2 linked regions of the Homo sapiens genome follow. The protein of the gene in region 1 interacts with the protein of each later gene in a biochemical or structural test. Each region holds a gene or a part of one and is shown in the gene's direction. Other genes may lie near its edges.

What was found.
Region 2: the proteins of C1D (region 1) and TSNAX form a complex in vitro, tested with the Homo sapiens proteins (one study listed by BioGRID).

The regions. Positions count from the first base shown.
Region 1 is NC_000002.12:68,040,352-68,043,373, reverse strand, and holds the end of C1D (nuclear nucleic acid-binding protein C1D), read left to right. Parts: intron 1-320; coding exon 321-485; 3' UTR 486-2,244; downstream 2,245-3,022. UniProt on the Homo sapiens protein: Plays a role in the recruitment of the RNA exosome complex to pre-rRNA to mediate the 3'-5' end processing of the 5.8S rRNA; this function may include MPHOSPH6.
Region 2 is NC_000001.11:231,538,621-231,542,454, forward strand, and holds part of TSNAX (translin-associated protein X), read left to right. Parts: intron 1-3,834.

The DNA.
Region 1 (3,022 bases):
TTTTTCAAAAATGTATAACCACCTAGAAACTTTCAATTCGATGTTTATTTCTGGAGTAATGTCTTAGTGTGATTCTAACTCTTTGGAAACAGAAGACTTCTGAAATGACTTTTTAACATCTGTCTTTCCCCACCCTCCGACTATGAACTCCAGGCAAGCAGGGAGCGTATTTATCCTATTCATTTGCATTTCCTAGCACCATGCACTTTAATAGGCAATAAATACATATATGTTGAATTTAACCAAGGTGTACAGTATAATAAAATTCAGTGGTGGCGAATAGCTTAGTAAATCTATTGCCTTTGTTTTTTATCTTTAAGGAAAGAATCAGAGTATATATGAACAGAGTCAAGGAAATAACAGACAAGAAAAAGGCTGGCAAGCTGGACAGAGGTGCAGCTTCAAGATTTGTAAAAAATGCCCTCTGGGAACCAAAATCGAAAAATGCATCAAAAGTTGCCAATAAAGGAAAAAGTAAAAGTTAACTTTTTGGTTTTGATGTACACATATTCAAAAAGTACATCTTCCCCCCCCCCCCCCCCCCCGCAAAATAATTCTGTGGCAGGGCAAGGTTTAAATGTGTTTCTTATTAATATGTAAATTCACAGTAAATATGTAAAGCTAAATACTTTCCTCTCCAAAGATCATTATCTTTATTGATTAGCACTGAGGATTTTAACATTGTGATATATTATATATTTATAATTTACCATCTCTTGATGAGACTCTTATTTCTTTATATAGGTCAGTCTTGCAAGTACCATTTTATAAGCAGCTGTGAAATTTAAGTGAAATGTTCTTTGTAAACATTTGTACTATTTTAAATGAATAATGACCTTATGAAGTATGCTATCTGTAGGCTGAAATTATAGGTACATCTGTTTTCACTATATGATATTAAGAAAGCGTGAAATGACTTAAATGTTCATTTTTTTCTGTATAGATACTTTATCATGTTTTCATGATTTTAGGAATTACTGCTTTGTTGATATTCAAAGTGTGAAACTAAAACTTTATGGTTGTACTTTAATTCTTGGCATGTTGCCTCTATGTCCCATTTAAAATAAAATACATTCTCATTAACTTTAGATGGGAAATAAGGTTGTATGTTGATGGATGAATTTTGGCATGATGACTGTACTCTCAATAAAGGCTGAAAATGTTGTATAACTGACCTGTGTATTTTTATCTTTTGAGTAAATTTGCCTTCCAAATTAGGAAGATAGGTTTTAGAAGTCATCACAAATAGAGAAATTCTTGAGTTTTTGTTCCTGATGCATGGTGTCCACAGTTCTTTTCATCTCATTTTTTTTCAGATTTTTTTTATTTCATGTTTTTGAGGCTGTATCAAGTACATACAAGTGTTTTGGAACAACTTCTTAAGTTACCTAATGCCACTTAAGCAGATGAGAAGTCCAAAGGAGATTACACTGTGTTTGTATTGTGGTTTATTTTTCTGGAATATTAGTTACAGAGAGTACTACATAGTAAACCTTTTTTTAAATGTCTAAGCCCATGAATTTTAATTATATGCCCTTAATGCTTTCAGTGTTTGAATCCATATCATTATGTGTAGGAATGCCAAGTATAGTAAAGTACTTTAATTTTTGAAAAAGGAGTTGTTAAAATTTTCTGTGTGATTAATTCTCCATAAGTAACCTTGAATAAATGGATTTCTTGATTTATGATAGCAGATATTGGAAATGGTCTTAAAATGTAATGGATTTTGTAAAGCATGTTGAACTCTTTCTATGACACATGAAGAGGAAGTCACTGATAGACGCAGAAGGTCTTTTCTGTCTCTGATGTCAGTTTTTGAAGTGGAAGAACATTAGTGAACATTTATAGTTATTTTACTCCTTTTTTTGCCTTTGTCTCCAAATTTCTAGCTATTTTTAAAAATAACCTCTTCATGAGAGAAATGTGTTACTGTTAAGATCAAGTGTAGTGTACCTGTCTTTGTGTTATTTATTGCAAAGAAATTTATTTGGATTTCTGTATATTTTCTAATTTCATAAAAGAAAAACAGCTTAAATGAAAAATGTTATACAATTGCAGAAAATCATTATTGGTTTTAGCTAAGTTATTGGTTTATGAAAGTGCACCTCTACGTTCTGTTAAATTGTGTAACTTTTAAGTGAGTAATTCTTTCATTATTAGGTAGAAATAAAAGTTTGAGTATATTCCATTTTATTATGTATAATTTTAAATACTTAGCACGTAATAAGGAGCTGAATGGCTGTAGTGCATTGGGTTGCTTATTTGCTTGTTGTTTGTTTATTCTTTTGACAAATATACTTAATGACATTTATATTGCCAGATACAGTGCTAGGTGCAACGTTCCAAAGACGATAACTACGGCCTTTATCCTATCTTTATAAGGTGTTAAGAAAAAAATAGTCTTTTTATTCAATTCAGTTTCTCAGAGTTATGGGAAAATTTATGACAAATTGTGCTCATTAACCTTATTCAGAACCATAAAGGGTGATGTGTGTGGTTGATCTATTTGACTATGGTGCAGTTCTTGTTAAAATAGTTTGTTCCACATGATAGTCTGCTCTAAGTTTAGATGTTAATTACATCTTTTATTAATCTCTTTGGGAATTAACAAGTTGGAGAAGTTGCATCTATAGATATTTTTAAGATTAGAATTATAGTCTATTAATCTTGTACTAAATAATGAGATCTTGCATTTTAATATTATTTTAAGTACAAATTTTTTCTTGTTCATAGTTGTAAGGTGGGAAATCCTTTTAGTAAAACAGAATATGTTGAGTGAAAAATTGAAGCTTGAATTATGTTACATTCCTGGAATTAGGAAGTTATGTCAGGTTGATTAGTTTTAAGATACCCTGTAGATTAAAAAATCCTTCTACTTAGCAATTAGAAATGGATTGGCATTATTTCTAAATAAGGTATTTAAAATTGACCAGAAGTGTAGGAAAGACTTCAAAAATGGACAGCGTATTGAATGTAAATACTTTTTTCTTAAGTAGGTCACTGGAGAAAAAGATACTTTAGG
Region 2 (3,834 bases), on another chromosome or scaffold:
AGCTGTGATTGGTTTTATACTATATGTCACAGAAAGAATGTAGGGAAGATCACATATAATTTATTAGCTTTTCGTTATTGAAGATATTATTGCCCGGGCATGGTGGCTCACACCTGTATGGGCAACATGGCAAAACCCCATCTCTACAAAAAATACAAAAAACTAGCTGGAGATGGTGGTATGCAAGTGTAGTCCCAGCTGCTCAGGAGACTGAGGCAGGAGGATTGATTGAGCCCAGGTGGTCAAGGCTGCAGTGAGCCATGATTGTGCCACTGTACCCCAGCCTGGGCGACAGAATGAGACCCTGTCTCAAAAAAAAAAAAAAAAAAGATACTGAAGTATTCCGTTCAGTAACATGAAACTTTTAAGATAATTCTCACATTTTAATTTTTACTTCATTAAATGGAATCTAATTTGCCATACATAGATTTATTGAAATATGGCACTGTTAACATTTTCTTTTTCTTACCTGACTGTGTAAAATTAGTTTTTGCTTGTTTTCTCATATCATTCTTAGATAGCTTGTACATAATAAGGCTTGTATTATCGAAAGAAGCAATACTGTTCTTATTAATTATGGACACTTTTTTTTAGTACTTATTACAATTCTAAAACAATTGCCATCAGTATTCAGCAGTAATATAAATAACAAAAGCAATAATATAAAGAAAAACATACAGATTGAGTATCCTAAATGCTTGGGACTGGAAGTGTTTTGGATTTCGGATTTTGGAATACTTGCAGATAATGTATGGGTTGAGCATCCCTTATCTGGAAATCTGAAATCTGAAGTGCTCTTGTGAGCATTTCCTTAGAGTGTCTTGTTGCTAAGAAAGTTTTGGATTTTGGAGCATTTTGGATTTCGGATTTTCAGATTAGGGATGCTCAACCTGTAATAGGAATATGACAGGAGACCTTAATATTTTAGAAAAATCTGCGTTACTGTGTGAAGTCATCTTTTAAATATTTTTCCACCAAAAAATAAATGCTCATTATAGTAAACTTAGAAAATGGTAGTCTTTAGAAAAATTACGAATGGCAGAAAGGTAAAGCTACTTAATGAGACAAATCAGTCTGTAGTACCCAAAGATAGCCTCTATCAACTAGCAGATTTCTTATTTTGTGCACTGTTTTTTATCATAGTTGTGATCATACTGTTCATACAGTTTTGACTAGTAAACTGAGAAAATAATAGACTTCAGAAAAATAAGAAACTTAAGAAAAAAATAGAAACTTTAGAAATATTAGAAACTTCAGGAAAGTAAAGATACTTCATGAAAGAGGCTGGATGTGGAGGCTCATGCCTGTAATCCCAGCACTTTGGGAGGCCAAGGCAGGCAGATCACTTGAGGTCAGGAGTTTGAGACCAGCCTGGCCAACATGGCGAAACCCTGTCTCTACTGAAAATATAAAAATTAGCCGGGCTTGGTGGCATCCCAGCTACTCGGGAGGCTGAGGCAGGAGAATTGCTTGAACTCAGGAAGCGGAGGTTGCTTGAACTCAGAATTGTGCCACTGCAATCCAGCCTGGGTGACAGAATAGGACTCTGTCTCAAAAAAAAAAAAAAAAAAAAAAAAACTTTATGAAAGAAATGAGCCAGTCACAGTACAGCTGAAAAACTGTTGTGAGAGGACCTCATGTATTTTAACTACAAAATTATTTTAATAGACATAGATAACTCTTCTTCAGTGAGCTTCAGTAGTTTGTGTCTTTCAAGGAATTTGCCATTTCCTCTAAGTTTTGAAATTTATTGGTGCTAATTTTCATTTTGATTTCACCTTTGACCCAAGAATAATTTAAGTATGTTATTTTGTGTCCAAATATTTTGGGAGTTTTCCAGACGACTTTCTGATACTGATTTCTAATTTAATTTCATGTGGTCAGAGAACATACTTTCTATAATTTGAATCCTTTTAAATTTATGGAGCCTTAATTTTGGCCCAGGATATGGTCTATCTGGTAAATGTTGTGTGTGCACTTGAAGAGTGTGTATTCTGTTATTGTTAGGTGTAATTAAGTCAGATTGGCTGATAGTGGTGTTCGCGTCACTTATTTCCTTATGATTTTCTGTACACTCGCTCTATCAGTTATTAAGAGAGAAAGAGGGTGACCTCTCTTGACGATAATTGTAGATTTGACTTTCTCCTTGAAGTCCTATCAGTTTTTTCTTCAAGTATCTTGAAGCTCTTTTATTTGGTACATTAATATTTAGGATTGTTATGCATTTAATGAATTGACCCTTTATCATTATGATGGTATCCCTGGATATAGGCTTTGCCCAAAGTTTGATGTTAATATAGCTACTCCTGTTTCGTTTGATTGTTATTAGAACGTATATCTTTTCATCCTTTTATTTTTAATCTATTTGTGTTTATATTTAACATGGATTTCTTGTCTCTCTTGCTTTTTAAAAATCCATTCTGAAAATCTCTGCTTGTTAGTGCAGGTGTTTAGACCGTTTACATTTAATGCAGTTATTGCTATGGTTATAATTAAATCTACCATCTATTCTTCTCTCCTTCCTGCCTTATTTTGGATAATTTTTTATGATCCCATTTTATCTTATTTGTAGGCTTATTAGCTATGCCTTTTTTGTTTTGTTTTTGTAGTGATTGTTTTATGGTTCATAATATATATCTTATTGTCAACTATTCTCACTTTGTACAATACTGTGTTTACTAAAATTTGTGCATACAAGAATCTTTTCACTTTGCATGATTTTTTGGTAACAGTTACTTTGCCAGTGAAGGTCACAGTTTTGATGTGCCCAAGTTTCAGTTAACACAGTACCATGCAAAGTAAGGACTACTTATCATTTCGCGTATGGTATAAAAATCTTATACTTCCTTTTCCATTTCCCCTCTACTAGCTTGGCCTTTTGTGCTACTGTTGTGATTCATGTTATTTCTACTTTTGTTGTTTCCACAATATGTTATGATTTTTACTTTAAACAGTATGATTTAAAAATAAGAAAAATATTTATCCACATTTACCAATTTTTGTAAATGTTCATTCCTTTGTGTATAGATTCAGATTTTTATCTGGTATCATTTTCCTTTTGCCTAAAGAACTTCTTTTAATATTTTTTGTAGTGTCAATCTGCTGATGATAAATCAATTCTTTCCGGCTCTGTGAACTAAGGGGATTGTTCTGCCTGCTCACTTTGGGCAATTCTTTTTCCAGCCTTAGGTAGTTTCCTCACATGCCTGCACTGATCAGTACTCAACTGAAGACTTGAGGAGGTTGCTTCTATAAATCTCTGAAGCTCTCTGTTTATACAGCTTTCTCCTCATTGTTACTCTGCTCTGCAAATTTTAGCTGTCTCGATCCCCCAAAACTCCCAACTCCTTTTCTACTCAGGCTGACTCCCAGGCTCCACCTAAGTTTCCTGTCTCTGTACTGTCACTTGGAAGCTTTCCAGGCAATAAGATGGGGCAGTCAGAGGGTATATGTTGTTCTCCTCCCTTTCCCCAGGGATCACTGCTCCATGCTGCCTGTAGTCCAGTGTCTGTAACCATTGTTTTCTGTATTTATTTTTTCTTTTTAGTTGTTTAAGGAGGGAGGATAAATCCAGTCCACGTTACTCTGCCCTTACTGAAAGCAGACATTTATCCATATATCATATTTTTATGAACAAAATTTTTCTTATAGTAAACATACAATTTTTGTATACTTTTTTCACTTAACAGTGTGTTAATAACATTTTCATGTTCTCCATACTATGAATAGTTTTGAGTAGTTTTGAGTTAGAAGTATATGAATGCATACAATATTTAGCCCTATGTTGATAATTAGGTTATTTTAGTTTTTCACTGTTAAAGCATCTGATGTTCT